Linked DNA regions of Homo sapiens: regions 2, 3 and 4 are each linked to region 1. Evidence: fine-mapped expression QTL. A gene starts in region 1. Each other region holds a variant in brackets. All regions are shown on one strand. Distances are between the middles of the regions. Region 1 holds the start of MTRR (5-methyltetrahydrofolate-homocysteine methyltransferase reductase). Region 2 has its middle 75 kb from the start of MTRR. Region 3 has its middle 92 kb from the start of MTRR. Region 4 has its middle 49 kb from the start of MTRR.

The links. PIP is the estimated chance that this variant, and not a neighbour inherited with it, causes the effect. A credible set is the group of variants that fine-mapping cannot tell apart.
Region 2: its variant is the best candidate, but not a certain one, in a credible set for the expression of MTRR in cerebellum (GTEx, PIP 0.51).
Region 3: its variant is the best candidate, but not a certain one, in a credible set for the expression of MTRR in whole blood (INTERVAL, PIP 0.85).
Region 4: its variant is the best candidate, but not a certain one, in a credible set for the expression of MTRR in platelets (CEDAR, PIP 0.51).

What each region holds. Positions count from the first base shown.
Region 1 is chr5:7,866,589-7,870,703 of GRCh38, reverse strand. MTRR (5-methyltetrahydrofolate-homocysteine methyltransferase reductase) reads right to left here and starts at 1,556. Exons shown (of 15, transcript NM_002454.3): 1 at 1,489-1,556. FASTKD3 (FAST kinase domains 3) reads left to right here and starts at 1,673. Exons shown (of 7, transcript NM_024091.4): 1 at 1,673-1,725; 2 at 2,508-4,058. The coding sequence starts at 2,621. RefSeq lists silencers at 1,054-1,103, 1,164-1,213, 1,224-1,663.
Region 2 is chr5:7,942,379-7,946,559 of GRCh38, reverse strand. No RefSeq gene overlaps it. Among named protein-coding and RNA genes, the nearest start is that of MTRR, 75 kb to the right of the region's middle. The variant T/C (reference allele first, on the strand shown) is at 2,448.
Region 3 is chr5:7,959,084-7,963,264 of GRCh38, reverse strand. No RefSeq gene overlaps it. Among named protein-coding and RNA genes, the nearest start is that of MTRR, 92 kb to the right of the region's middle. The variant T/G (reference allele first, on the strand shown) is at 2,235.
Region 4 is chr5:7,916,088-7,920,268 of GRCh38, reverse strand. No RefSeq gene overlaps it. Among named protein-coding and RNA genes, the nearest start is that of MTRR, 49 kb to the right of the region's middle. The variant T/C (reference allele first, on the strand shown) is at 2,126.

The sequences.
Region 1 (4,115 bases):
CCCTCAATCTTTAAGAAACAATGCAACAATACCCACACATAATATGAAATGGCCTTTTCTAAATTTGTTTTCAGCACTAATCTCAAATGAGCCTAAATAAGAATTCATCAAATTAAGGAGAGTGTACGAATGAAACTCTAATTCCATGGCTCAGAAATCAGATGATCGGCTCGAAACTACTTGGGCTTGAATCTGTGTTTCCTAAGTGCAACCCTGTAGACAAGCTCCCCAAATGATCCGTACCACAGCTCCTTTATCCTAAAAATGAGAGTATTACCACCTACCTGAAAAACGATGTGGCACAAGCCAAGAACCTGAACAAAACTTGAGCCACAGTATCATTCACAACAGTCTTAAATAGCTTTTGGTTTCCTCTTTTTAAAAAAAGATAAAAGTAAAAACTATATTAAAATGATAGGATTCTTGGTTCTTATTTGATCCTAACGCTAAACAAACTAATCATAGTACTAAAGGTAACTGAAGCACATACTCTCCTTCATTATTTAATGCAAATCAAAAATATGTGAGTGTATGGGCATATATACAAACGGGTGCATATAACGAAAAAATATTTCCAATCCACTTAAACATTTTACTAACACGTTTTTCCGCAAGAGATAAGCAGTAGTAAAACAAACGACACTCACAGATTTTTTTCCATACTCATCTAACGGCTAAAATTGGTGGGCTGTCAATTTGCAGAGACAGATTTAAACTGAAACCCAAACCAAAAGCTTGGCTTTCGGTGAATGAACCGCCCAGAACGGCACCTGGCATGAAACTGGTACTCGATAAGTTATCTGAATGAGTGAATAAACAATATGAAAACACTACACATTGACAGCTCACAGAAAACGGTGGAAACGATAATGAAAACCTTACTACAGCTAAAATTTCTATCACTTCCCATGAAACACACATCCTGAGGGCTTCCCAGGATCAATCAACCCCTCATCCCTGCTACTGCCCCACAATCCGGCACCACCTTCCCACGACTCTCAGCGGAGGCCCGGGCCCCAGCAGCCCCGGAAGCGGCGCGGAGGCGGTGGGCAGAGCTCACGGCCGCGGGCAGAACTCACGGCCGCGTCCCGCCGGGTGGGCGCTCGGAACGTCCCGGGTTCCCCGGAGCGCGCCGCCCCAACCCGGCATGTTCCCCAGTTCCCCGCGTCCCCGAGTGCGGTTTCCCTAGGCCTGGAAAGCGCCTAGAACCAAAGGCAGAACATGAGGAGAGACCCCACGCCGCCCAGGGGCCTCCCGCGGCAGAGGCCGACGCCGAGCCCAAGGACACGCTCCCGGGGACACCAAAGCCAAAGGCCAAAGGCCAAGTCCGAGCCCCAGCCCGCGCCCGCGGCGACCCCCGGAGGCCGAAGGGCGTGGGAACCACGGGCGCAAGCCGGCTGCCCACCCCCGCCCCGGGCCGCCTCTCCCAGGAGATTAGTGCAGGGCGAGCGGCCGGAATCCGGGAACCGTAGCCGACAGGCAGCTTACCCACGCCGCGCCAGCCGGGCACGAACCTGCACAACGCGACTTCCACCAACCTTGCGCCAGCGCGCACTGACGCAGCGCCCATGCTCGGTACCCAGGACCAATAGAAAGCTCCGAAGGGGACCTGGGCCAATCACATTGCGCCGCCCTGAGTCGTGCTCCCGCCCCGCGTTTGCTACGGAGGCCCACGACGCCCAGGCGCTTCCGCGACCACCCGGAGTGATTGCCCGGCAGAGCGCGGTAGGTGTCAACGCGGGGTCTCCGCGCAGTTGGTCCGGCTGGGTGTCAAAGACCTGGCCGGCTTTCTCCTCAGGCTGCGCCGCCCGGCCCGTGTCTCAGCGCAGGTCCCCGGGGCGCCGAGTTTGGGGGTGCTCGCCCCGCGGGTCCCTTTCATTCCTAGGAAAACGCGCCGCGGGGCCTCCCGTCTGTCTGTCTTGCACACACGTGTTGCCAAATCCCCCCGCACCGTCTTTAGATCTGGACTGGCCGCCCCACCTTCTCCCTTCATTGATCTATGTTTTGCTTTTTCTTTTCCTACCTTGTTTCCATTGACAAAGTAGACCCTTTCCTTCAACACTAACCTTCTCCCGACACCGAGGGGAAACCAACAGCTTAGGGCCTTTCCAGCGCGTTTTTACCCTTGCCTTGCTCTAACCTCGCCTAATTTTGCCCACTTTACCTGTTCTTTGATTTCTATCCAAATGCAATTTCTTCCTTCAACCAACATTTAAGGGCCACCCTTAAGAGCTACATTGCCTGAGTTTGAACCCTAGCTCTGCCACTTAACCACCTGCATAAACTGGGCAAAGTAACTTTGTGCTTCAACTTCTTCCTCGTGTAAAATGATAGTAAAAGTACTGAATCTGTGTAAGTTAATAGAATACCTACAACAGTGTTTAGCAAGTAATAGCGATTGTTATTGTTCAATGTCAGCCACTCTTCTAACTCTAGGATGCAGAGACTTTGCCCCTCTGGTGTTTATATGTTAACCATCCTTTTTTTTTTTTTTTTTTTTTTTCCAGATACTCGTTTGTAGTTTCATAAACATTGATGTTGGGTCAATCATGTTCTCAATGTATTTAACCATGTGTTTTTAAATTTTTTAATTTAGTTATCAAATTGAGAATCTGATGGTATGGCATTAATCACCTTGAGGAAGAACCTTTATCGTTTATCTGATTTTCAGATGCATAGAGCTCTGGCTGCTTTAAAAAATAAACCTCTAAATCATGTTCACAAGGTAGTCAAGGAGCGTCTGTGCCCTTGGTTGTGTTCACGACAACCTGAGCCTTTCGGGGTCAAATTCCATCATGCCCATTGTAAAAAGTTTCATTCGAAAAATGGAAATGACCTTCATCCACTCGGTGGACCAGTGTTCTCTCAAGTATCTGACTGCGACAGGCTTGAACAAAATGTTAAAAATGAGGAGAGTCAGATGTTTTACAGGAGACTGAGCAACTTGACTTCATCAGAAGAAGTGCTAAGTTTTATAAGCACGATGGAAACCCTGCCTGACACTATGGCAGCAGGAGCTTTACAACGAATTTGTGAAGTGGAAAAAAAGGATGGTGATCAAGGGCTGCCAAAAGAAATACTGGAGAATAGCATCTTTCAAGCTTTATGCTTTCAGTTTGAAAAGGAGCCCTCACAGCTGTCAAACACTAGTTTAGTGACTGCTTTGCAAGCTCTGATTCTGTTGCATGTGGATCCTCAAAGTAGCCTGTTGCTGAACCTGGTGGCAGAATGCCAAAATCGTCTCAGAAAAGGTGGCATGGAAGTTCGCAATCTTTGTATTCTTGGGGAAAGTCTGATTACACTGCACAGTTCAGGTTGTGTGACACTAGAACTCATTATAAATCAACTTCAAGGTGAAAAATTGGAAACATTTACCCCGGAGGATATTGTGGCCCTTTATAGAATCTTGCAGGCATGTACTGAAAAAGTGGATGAACACCAAACATTTTTAAATAAGATAAACAACTTTTCCCTATCAATAGTTTCCAACCTGAGTCCTAAATTGATTAGCCAAATGCTCACTGCCCTGGTGGTTCTTGATCAAAGTCAAGCATTTCCTCTGATTATAAAATTGGGCAAATATGTCGTGAGGCATGTCCCACATTTCACTAACGAGGAGCTTAGGAGAGTCTTGGAGGCGTTCATATATTTTGGGCACCATGACACATTTTTTACAAAAGCCCTAGAGCATCGTGTAGCTGCGGTGTGCCTCACGTTGGATCCTGAAGTTGTCTGCAGGGTCATGGAGTACTGCAGTAGAGAACTGATTCTTTCAAAACCCATCCTCAATGCAGTGGCAGAAACTTTTGTTTGCCAAACAGAAAAATTTTCACCTCGTCAGATTTCTGCCTTAATGGAACCATTTGGGAAACTCAATTATTTGCCACCAAATGCCTCTGCTTTATTTAGAAAGCTGGAAAACGTGCTATTCACTCATTTCAATTATTTTCCACCCAAATCATTATTGAAACTTCTTCATTCATGTTCACTTAATGAATGCCATCCAGTCAACTTTCTGGCAAAAATATTCAAGCCTCTTTTCCTTCAACGGCTGCAAGGTGAGTTGGTTATAAATTCTGACAGTTGGAAAAAAGTAACCTTTGAACTGGCAGTGG
Region 2 (4,181 bases), 76 kb before region 1:
GCACTTTGGGAGACCAAGGCGGGCGGATCACTTGAGGTCAGGAGTTTGAGACCAGCCTGGCCAACATGGCAAAACCCCATCTCTACTAAAAATATAAAAATGAGCTGGACCTGGTGGCCATGCCTATAGTCCCAGCTACTCAGGAGGCTGAGGAACGAGAATTGCTTGAACCCAGGAGGCGGCAGTTGCAGTGAGCCGAGATGGTGCCACTGCACTCCAGCCTGGGCAACAAAGTGGGACTCCATCTCAAAAAAAAAAAAAAAAAAAAAAAAGACAGTGAACAGATGTTTTTTAGTCCTTATATTCTGGCCTTACATAAACAGGTTTAATTCTAGTCTCTTCCCACCAAACTCAAGAAAATAACTGTCCTTGTAGGAACACTGAATATCTAGTACTCAAGACAATCTTTGCTTCTGATGTCTCCACAGAGGTGTTCCACTCTCATGTTCAACATGCTCAATACCCACTCAAGCTTTGGATGGAAATCCCCACTCATTTTAGGTACCTGTGGTTTTATTTTTCTTTATTGCAATCTCAGCTATGCACTTTTATTTTACATTTACTATAACTTATTCAGCATTTTTCTGTAGTTGGCATGTGTACATTGCTGAGAGGTTGAGGAGGAAGGCATTCCATGTTAGTGCCATCTTCCACAGACTGGAATTCTCATGGCAGCATCTAAGGGAAATGATCCCAGAGACTCGTGGCTGCCATGGTTACTGGAAGGTCCATTGAACAAGGAGCTTGTTTCTATACATGAGTTGCCATGTGCATTTACTGAAGAATGTCATTTTTCTCAGTATTCAAAATAAATGTAGTATCTCTTTATAGCAAAGGTTGAGACCTTGTGTGTCTGAAAAACAGAATATACAGGAAACTCCAAAGTTTCTTATGCCTAGGTGTTGAGTACTCGAAGATCACCCTCCTGAGACTTTCCTTACTCTTCTTAACTGTGTAATTAAATACAACTGTAGTAAATTAAACACAGACAAAAATGCTTTCCTTGACATAATCTCAGTACAGTCTGCCTTAATTCTAATTAGCAAAATCTTCTGTTTTAAGAAACAATTTAGTTTAAAAGGTTTTAGGCATTTTTTATGTTAAAGTGTTGGCTATCACGACTTTTTCTGTAGTTTTTATTTCCTTAGAGCTATTCTTTGAGTGTTACTAGAGTGGGCTGCAGGGAATTGGAAAGCTTGGATGTGGGGCATGCTGACGGCAGTACTTTGGAGATGATATTATAAAAGCAATGTAGGCTGGGTGTGGTGGCTCACACCTGTAATCCCAGCACTTTGGGAGGCTGAGGCAGGTGGATTGCCTGAGGTCAGGAGTTCAAGAACAGCCTGGCCAACATGATGAAACCCTGTCTCTACTAAAAACACAAAAAATTAGCCAGGCATGGTGGCGGGTGCCTGTAATCCCAGCTACTCTGGAGCCTGAGGCAGGAGAATCTCTTGAACCCGGGAGGCGGAGGCTGCAGTGAATCTAGGTCATGCCATTGTACTCCAGCCTGGGCAACAAGAGGGAAACTCTATCCAAAAAAAAAAAAAAAAGCAATATAGACCAGCTTTCTTATGGGAAAGTGTTTCAAAACCCATCTTATCATAAAAAGGTAAACCCAAAGGTAAACCAAAAAGGTAAACCAAAGGTGATTTAGTGGATACAATAATCTTCTCCCAAAGAGACAAAAGTTGGCAACCTTCTTTCTAATGCATCCATTTGAAAGTTAGACATATTCACTTGGTTTTCCACTTTAGGCTGTCAAATTTTTGTAGACATTGGTGTCCAGGTCTGACAAGGTGAACGCAGGATTCAGACGATTCAGACATGCCCTGGATTTTTCCCTCAACCCCTTCCTCTCCGTTGTTTCCAAGCATCTAATCTTTTATTTCTGTTGGCAGAATTATCCTTGCCAAAGTGAGCAAAATTCTATCTCCACCTGAGTTGGGTAATATCTCATTGTTGTTTCCAAATGACTTTGATAGTTTGTCACAAAGGATGACCTTCAAAAGCTCCCCAAATTCTTACACAGCCCAACAGTAGGATTTGTTGTTACCTGGGTCCCAATTTAATTTTACTACACTGGCAAACTGTAGTTCCTGAAATGAAATAACCTGACTAAACTGTAAAGTTAATAGTGATGAGTTTTAAGATAAACAGGACAGTTGGTTATTTTCTAAGCACTGAGCACTGGCCCCAGTATCCTGATCTGCAGGCTTTGCAATTTGACATTTGCTGACGCAGACAACAGAGGGTCCATTTATAACAAAAAAGCACAGTCTCCCACCCGAGGGAGTTTTCATTCTCTCAATGCACCTGTCATCTTTCTCTCACTCTGCAATTACAAAACCTTTTCCACCTGGTTGTGCTGTAGTCATTGCCTCTGGCTCTACGAATGGATTATCACTTCCCAGGGAGGGCTTCCAGGGTGCAGATTCTTTCAGAAA[T/C]AGCAATTTGATTGGAGGTTTCTATTGGTGCTGGCAGCCCCTGGCCCATGGGTAATGGGGCAGGAAAAGCACATCCTTCCCACCCCATGGCCACACTGGCTCGGCCTTTAACTGTCCTACATATTTGTGTTCCACATAAACGTTTCTATTTCAGAAAGAAGGAAGCTCTACAACATAAAACAAAAGTTAAGTGAAAGCCACTTGTCTGCAGAAGTGAGAGTTGTTTTTGTTTCTTTCTTTTTGTTTTGCGACAAAGGTAGACAAAATCCTCATTGTGAGGTTCTTCCAGGTCTAACTCCTCTCTTTCCTTCATGCTTCTCTCCACAGAAATGCTCTGTCCCTGTCAAACTCATCTCTTTACCACCAACCACTGCAACATGACACATGCAATCTCACTGCCTTTCATCCACTAATACTCTTTCCTTTGCATAAAAAGCACAACTATTGATTGTCAACATCTGCCCTTCAGGATTTGCTCAACTCCTACCTTTTCAGGAAAGTAGCCAATTATTTCTATCTCATGGGGCTCCCTCGTGATCCCCACGGCAACTTCACAACAAGGCCTTGAGGACGCTCCTCGATTGTTACTTCAGAGCTGTACACAGTAGACTTAGATCTTCTGCACGACATCACTCCTCATCTAGTGCTTCACAAATGAGAATACTCAGCCAAGAGTAGGACAGTTAGTCCTTAGAAAATTCGTTTAAGCCTACTGAGTGAAGAGTAGGGTAGCTAACAATTAACAAATTTGTTTAAGCTTTGCAAAGTCTTACTTTTCATATGCATATGACGAATGACTGAATTTTCAGAAAAGTAATATCTTTCTATGAGATTGCCGTTACCAAGAATAGATCCATACTGAGATTCAGCTGATGTGAAAGATTTGACTTTTGAGAAATTATGTTTATCCAGGTAGGTGCCAGTCCCTCCCCAGCAGTGAGATGTTTGGATGCAGTCAGTTGACCTGATTTGATAAATGCCTTCCATTTTGTGAAGACAGGAAGAAACGGACGATGAGAAGAAAAAAGAAAAGGACTAAACTTGGGCATTCCTTAATGAATGCCAGTCACATCTCAGCGTAGGCATTTCTTAGCCTTACTAAAATCCTTTAAAAAGTCCATCACGCTGGTCCTCATTAATCCAGTCATTTCCCATGTGATCTCCGCTTTTATGAAAAGGTTTTCAGAACCACTCTCTACACATGCAGTGATTCTATTATTGTGTTCAAGGACACATCATCCCACATTTGTCTGCAAACTGCACATGGTTATGTGATGCTGTTCTCCCACGAATCCAGAATTCACTCATGCACATCCACACTTCATATCCAGTGTACACGCCAATGTTCTCTCACCCGGCTCCCTCTGGGAGAGTGGCAGGAAGTGGGTGGGTTGGAGCAGAAGTGCTCATGCAGCTGAGGGCACCAGCAGGCTCACTAGGCTGCACCCCAGTAAATGTAACAGTAAATTTTACATTGTAAAATTTTAAATTTTAAAATGTAAACGATCTCAAAGACCTGAGTTCCCCTCAAAGATCAAATCGCTTAAGAAATTACACTGCTCCTAGTTACCCATTCACTCCCCTTCCAGGCTTCCCAGGGCACAGGAGGTCCACACTGGTGGTGTAATTCTGGCCATGGTGTAACAGTAAATGTAGGGTCTCTGTTTTTCTAACTGTATTGTGAACTTCTTGAAGGCAGATCATTGGAATCTTTTACTTCCTTGTATCAACACT
Region 3 (4,181 bases), 93 kb before region 1:
ATCAAGTGCAGCAGCACTCCATGAACCTGGACGTAACCCAAGGAGATGAGTAAACTGATACCTGTCCTTAATTCAACCAGAAGATGGGTCTTGTCTGCAGGCAGCAGGTATAAAATTGAAGACAGTACCAAGCATGGGTCATGGTGAATGGGTTTCTGCAGCTTCGCACAGCTCAGAGAACTTCATTCCCTTTGCATAGCTGAGAGGGGGTTCAGGGACCTAAGTGACACTGGCGGGAGGCAGTCCACATGGACCCTCACACACACAGAATGCTCCAACGTGTGTGGGGACAAAAGCCCACTCAGGAGACTCCACCCCAGGACTCTGCACAGGAGGCAAAAGTAGCATTTGGCTGTACCTCAGAAGTTGCAGGGCCAGCGCTGCCCCTGCCCCTGTCCCTGCCCCGGTGAGATCTGCCACCTAGAAATGCACTTTGCCCTCCTGCTTGAGGTTCCTCAAAGGTGGGAGGAAAGAGCTGTCACTAGATCAGCTCTGAGTGCAAGTCAAGCTGTGGTATTTTGTTCATTCAACATATTAAGGACAAATACAGGTCATGTTGAGATTTATAGCATTGTGAAGATATTCAAGGATTTTGTAATGCAGTAAAGGATGTTCCTCTGTCTAGGAAGAAAGGTAAAATAAGACATTTGCTGCTGCAGCCAGATGTTTCCTGTGATTGAGGAGCTCACCGATGATCATAAATGACTGTATGACTGCAGAAGTACAAAGTACACAGTGTCTCAAGATTTGCATTTTTCTCCAAAGAGTTTACAGAAGCCAAGGCCCATAGATTTTATTTTTGAAAGAGACAAATGGGAGGGACGTGCCCCTCACAAAATCTGAGGCTTCAAGCAGTTATGGGAGCAGAGTTGTGAATGCAATGTTTGTTTGTTTTTTATTTTATGAAGAGAAACAGTTTTTTTCCAGAGAAATTGTGTGTCTGCTTGAATCCAGGAAAAAAAATTATCATAAGGTGACAGAAATCAAAGAGGCAATATCAAAACATGTTTTTCTGTGGTCACTTTAAAACAACAAAATGTTTCATGCTGATTTCCCCAAAGATATCACTTTCCTAAAGATTATTAAGTTTTATAAACTTCTCTTTGAAATTGTTTTCTTTAATGATAGAAATTTCTAAAATCTATAGTGCATAAGTAAACTATAACATAGGAGTAAGCTATAGTGTATGAGTGAGCTACCTGTTCATCACATTCTTCTATGGTCCGCTCATTGATACAGTAGATTGCATTGAGACCCCTTTGTGCCAAGACACTGCCCTGCCAAGCAGTTTAAAAATGTATGTCTAATCAGTCTTTCCTTGAGGAGATACGGTCGTGAGACATGATGGACACACAAATATCCACAAAACAGCACAGTGAGAGATAAGTACTACTGAAAATTTTTCTCAGTCTGCATAGTTTATTTTAAAGCATTAACGCTTGCTGATTTCCTCAACAAGTCTGAAGAACAGAAAAGTAGGGGTGATATTGTCAGAGGCCTTTGAACCAGAGCAACTCCATCTTGAATAGGGTGAGCAAAATAAGGCTGAGACCTACTGGGCTACATTCCCAGACAATTAGGCATTCTAACTCACAGGATGAAATAGAAGGTCAGCACAAGATACAGGTCATAACGACCTTGCTGATAAAAGAGGATGCAGTAAAGAAACCAGCTAAAACCCACCAAAACCAAGATGGCAACAAGAGTGACCTCCGGTCGTCCTTAAGGCTATACTCCCACCAGCACCACGACAGTTTACAAATGCCATGGCAACTTCAGAAAGTTACCCTATATGGTCCAAAAATGGGAGGAACCCTCAGTTCTGGGAATTGCCCACCCCTTTCCCAGAAAACTCATGAATAATCCACCCCTTGTTTAGCATATAATCAAGAAATAACCATAAAAATGGGCAACCAGTGGCTCATGCCCCTGCTCTGCCTATGGAGTGGCCATTCTTTTTCTTTTTTTTTTTTTAAGCACATTAAAAAGTAGGATTTATCCTAAGGATGCAGGGTTGGTTTAATGTTTTAAACAAATTAATGTAACACACTGTATCAATCTGATAAAAGACAAAAACCATGAGAAAAGCCAGAAGTGAGATGGAGAAGTAAGAAGGGACAAAAATGGAAGTTACTTCAAAGGAATAATCATGAGGACTTAGGATACAAAAAAAAAAAAAAAGACAGAAAATTATAGTTAACACTGGAGATTTTTGTTTAGTTACTATTTTTTAT[T/G]TATTCATTTTTGTCCTGATGCCTTGAGAGGATGAGATATTCTAAACAGACACAGAAAAATCAGGATTAGGAAGCATTGAGGAAAGGAAGATTATCAGACACAAAATGTCTAGAAGACAGATGAAAATGTGACTCCGGAGTAGCCTACAAGGTCACTGTCATAAGACTTTCTATAGCAGTGATTATTGCAGCTAATTTTGTCTTCCCAAATTTGTATATTCAAGTTCTAAAGCCCCCCACCCCAATAACTCATAATGTAACCATATTTGGAAACAGGGTCTTTAAAGAGTTAATTAAGGTAAAGGAGGTCATTAGAGTGGCCTCTAATCCAGTACGACTGGTATCCTTATAAGAAGAGGAGATTAAGACAGAAACATGCAAAGATGGAAGACGATGTGTGGACACCAGAGGAAGAGGCCATCCAGAAGCCCAGGAGAGGGCCTTCTAACACCTTGATCTAACCCTGCTAACACCTGACCCTGCTAACACCTTGATCTTGGACTTCCAGCCCCCAGAATTGTAAGAAAATAAATTTCTGCTGTTCAGGTCACCTAGTTGTTTTATTTTGCTATAGCAGCCCTAGCAAACTAATACAGTAACTTCAGAAGCAATTTCCTGAAGGCCAATTTGGAGTTTGAAATAAGACACTCCTAATTTCATATACCACAAATTTGCATATTGCCACAGACACTGTGTGGGATATCCTGAGGCCACGTGCGATTTAAAGTTTCATTAATGCTTCTCTGAAGTCCACTGTGCCCGCGTTGTTTGCCCTCACGCTATTTGTGACTCGAATTCTGCAACCTATATTTGAGAAAAAGAGAAGGTGGAAAATTGCCAATCCAAACAAGTAGAAAATTCCCTGAAACGTGGCAGGTTGATGGCAAAATGAAGATAATATTGGCAACTCTCAACCGTGTTGCAGAAGCATTTTCCCATTGAGGATGCAGCAATATTTCTGGTCCCACGTGTGCTCCCCCATTTACAGGTGGACGATTTTTCTCCTTCCCTTGAACCTGGCAGGTGAATGAACAGGATGTGGTCAAAGTGATGCACCTGACTTCTGTGCCTGCCTCTCTCACTTTTCAGATGCTCACCTGTGCAACCCAGTGACACACTGTGAAGAAGCCCTGCCCACAGGGAGAAGCCACAGGGAGATGTTTCAGGCAAGAGGCCCAGCCAGGGTCCCATGTGACAGCCCCTCATGTGAGTAAATAAGACTTCAGGCTGTTCCGGCCCCCAACCTTCAGCTTCCCAGGCTCATGCTGAGAATTTCCCTTCACCACTGTTGTTCGAGTTCACCTCTGAGTGTTGGGGGAGGCCCCTTCTCCCTCTTGGCCTCTGCCCAGCACCAGCCTACAGTCTGGAGGAACAGCAGCTCTGAGACCGGCCAGGAGTTCTCAGTGTTCCTGTGAGTCTGAAAGCAGGAGCGTTCTCCGGGAATTTGCACGCTCTGCCTTTTGGCGAGGGGTAATTTACCCATGGAGAATGGCAAAGGGTCAGGCTTGTTTGTGGGGATGCAGGGGCACCCTCTTAGGGCTTCCAGAAATCACTTGGAGAGAGTATCCTTGGGGGAAAGGACTGATGCTCCATGACCAACTCGGAGACTTACCTAAAGGGACGCACCAACTACATTCTTATTTCACACAAGCATGGCACTGCCCCACAGGCCGGTAGGGTGATCTCTGAGTAGAGATGGTTTATGCCATTTCTACAGATAGGCCTCCCCTTATTCTAACTAAATGGGCTCATCATCTCAGAGTCATTCAACATGCTAGATGGCGTTCACCAATAAGCCTGGCAGAGATTAAACACTGAATCTCTAAAGCTACTGTTGTGCTTGGAAATAGGCAATTTGACATACTGTTGGTCAAGTGAACTTTTCCAAAGATCAACTTAGCAGTGACATCAGAAGCCTGAAATGGGTGCTTGCCTTTGACCTGGTAA
Region 4 (4,181 bases), 50 kb before region 1:
TCTGAAACTGGATAAAGGGCATCTATGAAAACCCTAGAGGTAACATCATATGCAATGATAAAAAAAAATGGGCCAGGTGCAGTGGCTCACGCCTGTAATCCCAGCACTTTGGAAGGCCAAGGCAGGCGGATCACGAGGTCAGGAGATCGAGACCATCCTGGCTAACATGGTGAAACCCCATCTCTACTAAATATACAAAAAATTAGCCAGGTGTGGTGGCGGGGGCCTGTAGTCCCAGCTACTCAGGAGGCTGAGGCAGGAGAATGGTGTGAACCCAGGAGGCAGAGCTTGCAATGAGCCAAGATTGTGCCACTGCACTCCAGCCTGGGCGACAGAGCGAGACTCCATCTCAAAAAAACAAAAAAAAAAAAAAAAAAAAGTTTTCCCCCAAAGATCAGAAACAAGTAAAAAAATCTCTTCTCCCCACTTTTATTCAACATTATACTGAATGTTATAGCCAGTGCAATAACACAAGAAAAAGAAATAAAGTATGCGAAGACTGAAATAATAAAGTATAATTTTCTTTACTTGCAGATTATGTGCTTATCTATGTAGAAAATCTTAAGCCATTTAAAAAACAGCTATTATAACTAATAATTGAGTTATCATGGTTACACGATAAAAGGTCAATATACAAAAATCAATTACATTTCTACGCACCAGCAATGAACAACTGGGAATTGAAACTTTTAAAAATACCATTTAAAAGCACATGAAAAAAATGAAATATTTAGATAAATTTGACAAAAACTTTCTAAAATGTGTACACTAAAATTTATAAAGCATTGCTGAAAGAAATTAAATGTCTAAATAAATAGAAGAGTATCCTATGTTTTATGAAGGAAAGACTCAGTATTGTAAAGATGTCAGTTTTCCCCAATGCAATTAAAACTAAAGTTTGAGAATAATTTTTTTTGCAGAAATTGAAATGCTCATTCCAAAATTTGTATGGAAATGCAATGAACCTAGAAATAACATATTTTATAACAGAAGAACAAAGTTGGAGAATTACACTACTTGATTTCAAAACTTTGTAAACCTATAATAGCTAGTTTTGTATGGGCATAAAGATAAACATAGAAATCAATGGAACAGGTTAGAGAATCCAGAAACACAGCCACACTGTACAGTTGATCTTTGAACAACACAACTTTGAACTGTGCAGTTCCACCATATGTGGAGTTTCTTGCACTTCTGCCACTCAAGAGACAGCCAGACCAACCTCTCCTCTTTTGCCTCCTCCTCTTATTTGCATTCAACATGAAGACAATGAGGATAAAAAACTTCATAATGAGTGCCATAATGAAACTGGTAAAGTTTCCAGTCAACAGCAAATTATTAGTAGTTAAGTTAGGGGAAGTCAAAAATTATATGTGGATTTTTGACTACACAGGGAATCAGCATTTCTAACTTCTGTGTTGTTCAAGGGTCAACTATTGACGAGCAATTCAAATTTGACAAAGGTACCAAGGTGACACAATAAGGAAAGTCCAATTGTTTAAATAAATAGTGCTGGAGCAAGTGGATATCCATTATCCATATGCATGAAAAATGAACCACAACCCTTACCTTACATAATACATAAATACTACCTGAAAATGGGTCATAAACCTAAATTTAAGAGATAAAATCATAACATTTCCCAAACAAAACATAGGAGAAAATCTTAGAGACCTTGAGCTTGGCAGATGTTTTTAAGTAGAACCCAAAAGGCACTAACAATTTTAAAAAAGGAAAAGAACTTTGGACTTCATTTTAATTAAAAATTTCTCCTCTCCAAATATGTATTAAAAATGAAACTGTAAGTCACCAAATGGGAAAAAATATATATTTGATGAAAACTTTTTTCTGAATATATAAAATAAAACTCTTACAGCCTAATGATAAAATATAAAATATGGAAAACAGTTTTGAACGGACACTCTACCAAAGATGATAAATGAATGGCAAATAAACAGCTGAAAATAAGCTCAACATCAGTAGTCATTAGGAGAATGCAGGTTAAAAGCACAATGAGATAACACAACACAAACATGAGAATAGCTAAAATCAAAAGAGACTGACCAGAACAAGTATACCTGGTGAGGATGTGAAGCAAAAAAATAAAAAATAAAAATAAAACCGT[T/C]TCTTATAAAGTAGCACAACCTCTTTGGGAAACACTTTGGAAGTTTCTAAAAACATTACCTTCACATGGCCCAGTTATTCCATATCTAGGGATCTGCTGAAGTAATAAAAGCATATAGTCACACAAATTCCTGTGCACCAAAGTCACAGCAGCTTTATCTGAAATAGCCAAACACTGGAAAAACCCAAATTTTCATCAAAATGTGAATGAATCAGCAAATCATGATATATTCATACAATGGAATATTACTCAGCAATAACAAGGGATAAACTACTGATGCATGCAACAACATAAACAAATTTTAAAACATTTATGCTGCCTGAAAGAAGTCAGAGAAAAGGAAAGTACATAGCATATGATTCAATTCATAGAAAGTTCTAGAAAATGTAAAGTACTCTATAGTGACATAAAGCAGACCCTCGGTTGTTTGCAACAACAGGGGTATTGAAGTGATGGAAAGTATGTGTTTCAAAGGGTCACAGAAAAGTTCTTGGTGTTCATTATTTCAACTCAGTGATATGCAGATGTCAAAAGTCACCATATTGTGAACTTTAAACGTGTAGTTGATTGTATGACAGTTATCATTCAATAAAGCTGTAAAAACTGTGATGCAATAACTGTTATGGATTGAGTTATATCCACCTTCCCAGGCTTATACGTTGAAGTCCTAACCCCCGGTACTTCAGAATGTGGCTATATTTGATGATGGGGTGTTTAACGAGGTAATTAAGTTAAAATAGAGTCATTAGGGTGTCCAGTATGACTGGTGTCCTTACAAGAAGAAGAAATTTGAATACAGACATATACAGGGAAAATACCATGTGACAATACAAGGAAAAGACAGCCATATACAAGCCAAGGAAAGAGGCCTCAGAAAAACCTAACCCTGCTGACATTGATCTTCTGTGCTTCCAGAACAGTGAGAAAATAAATTTCCTTTGTTTAAACCACCCAGAATGTGGTAGTTTGTTATGACAGTCCTCACAAACTAATACAATAACTTACCTAAACTTTCAGAATTCAACAACATTTTCTCTTTCCAATGTCCATTAAACATATTTCTGTTAAGGGAAAGTGAGGAATCGATCAAATATTTAACAAAAGTTATAATACTAGTAATAAGAAGGCAGCCATTTGCCTAGAACTTTATAATTTTTGAAAACACTCTCCCATATCTTTTTTGTCTCAATAGAACATTTGCTGGTAGTTTTTCTTTTTTCTCAATCTACACTGAGTTAACACTTGTATAACCCGCATACTAAGAAACAGAAGACTATAGATGGAAAGCTCCAGTTCATACAGCTTGGCTGCCTGGATGTACAGAGGAAGATCAAGGTCTTGTCAAGATGATGTCACTTGTTGAGATGGTGTGTGAATGAATGGCTTGTCAAGATGGTGTAAGAACCAGCCTTGGAACCAACTTTGTGATTCGAGTTTCCTTGGTTTAAAAAAAAAAAAATCCAATGACATTTCTATGGAAATAAGCCTAAGTGGGCACGTTCCCACTCATTCTAGGATCATGCACAATAATGATGTCACACCAGGAAGCTGAGGCTTGTAAGCTTCCCTGTAGTATTTCAAACAGTATTTATTCCCATTCATTTTCCAATACCTACACCAGTTTGTAAGTGATCTAGCCTAATGGTTGCCCTCGTCCAAACTGCCCTTCGAGTTTTATAATGAATTCTCCCAAGAAAAGCAGCTTTGCGGTGATGTGGAGAGACAAGCTGTTTGAAATGTGAGCAGGATGAGGGAGCCCTAGAGGTTTATGTGGGCATTTGTAATAGAATCCAGTTCCTAAATCATTCTTACATGTGTGGTTCAAAGTAAACATTACACAATACCGCTATCATTTCCAATTTAACTGCCCTGAGGGCTAAATTCTGAAAGCCAAGGAAATAGATACTTTTATTATTAAGGTAAATTGAAGAAGACCTTCATATACCTCTTCAATTTTATGTTTGCTCCCTTTGCAGAACTGCCTGCTTTGGGAACCTTTTCACTTATTTCTTCCTTCATCTCCTAGACTCATTTCCATTTGTCTGGAGGCTGGCCT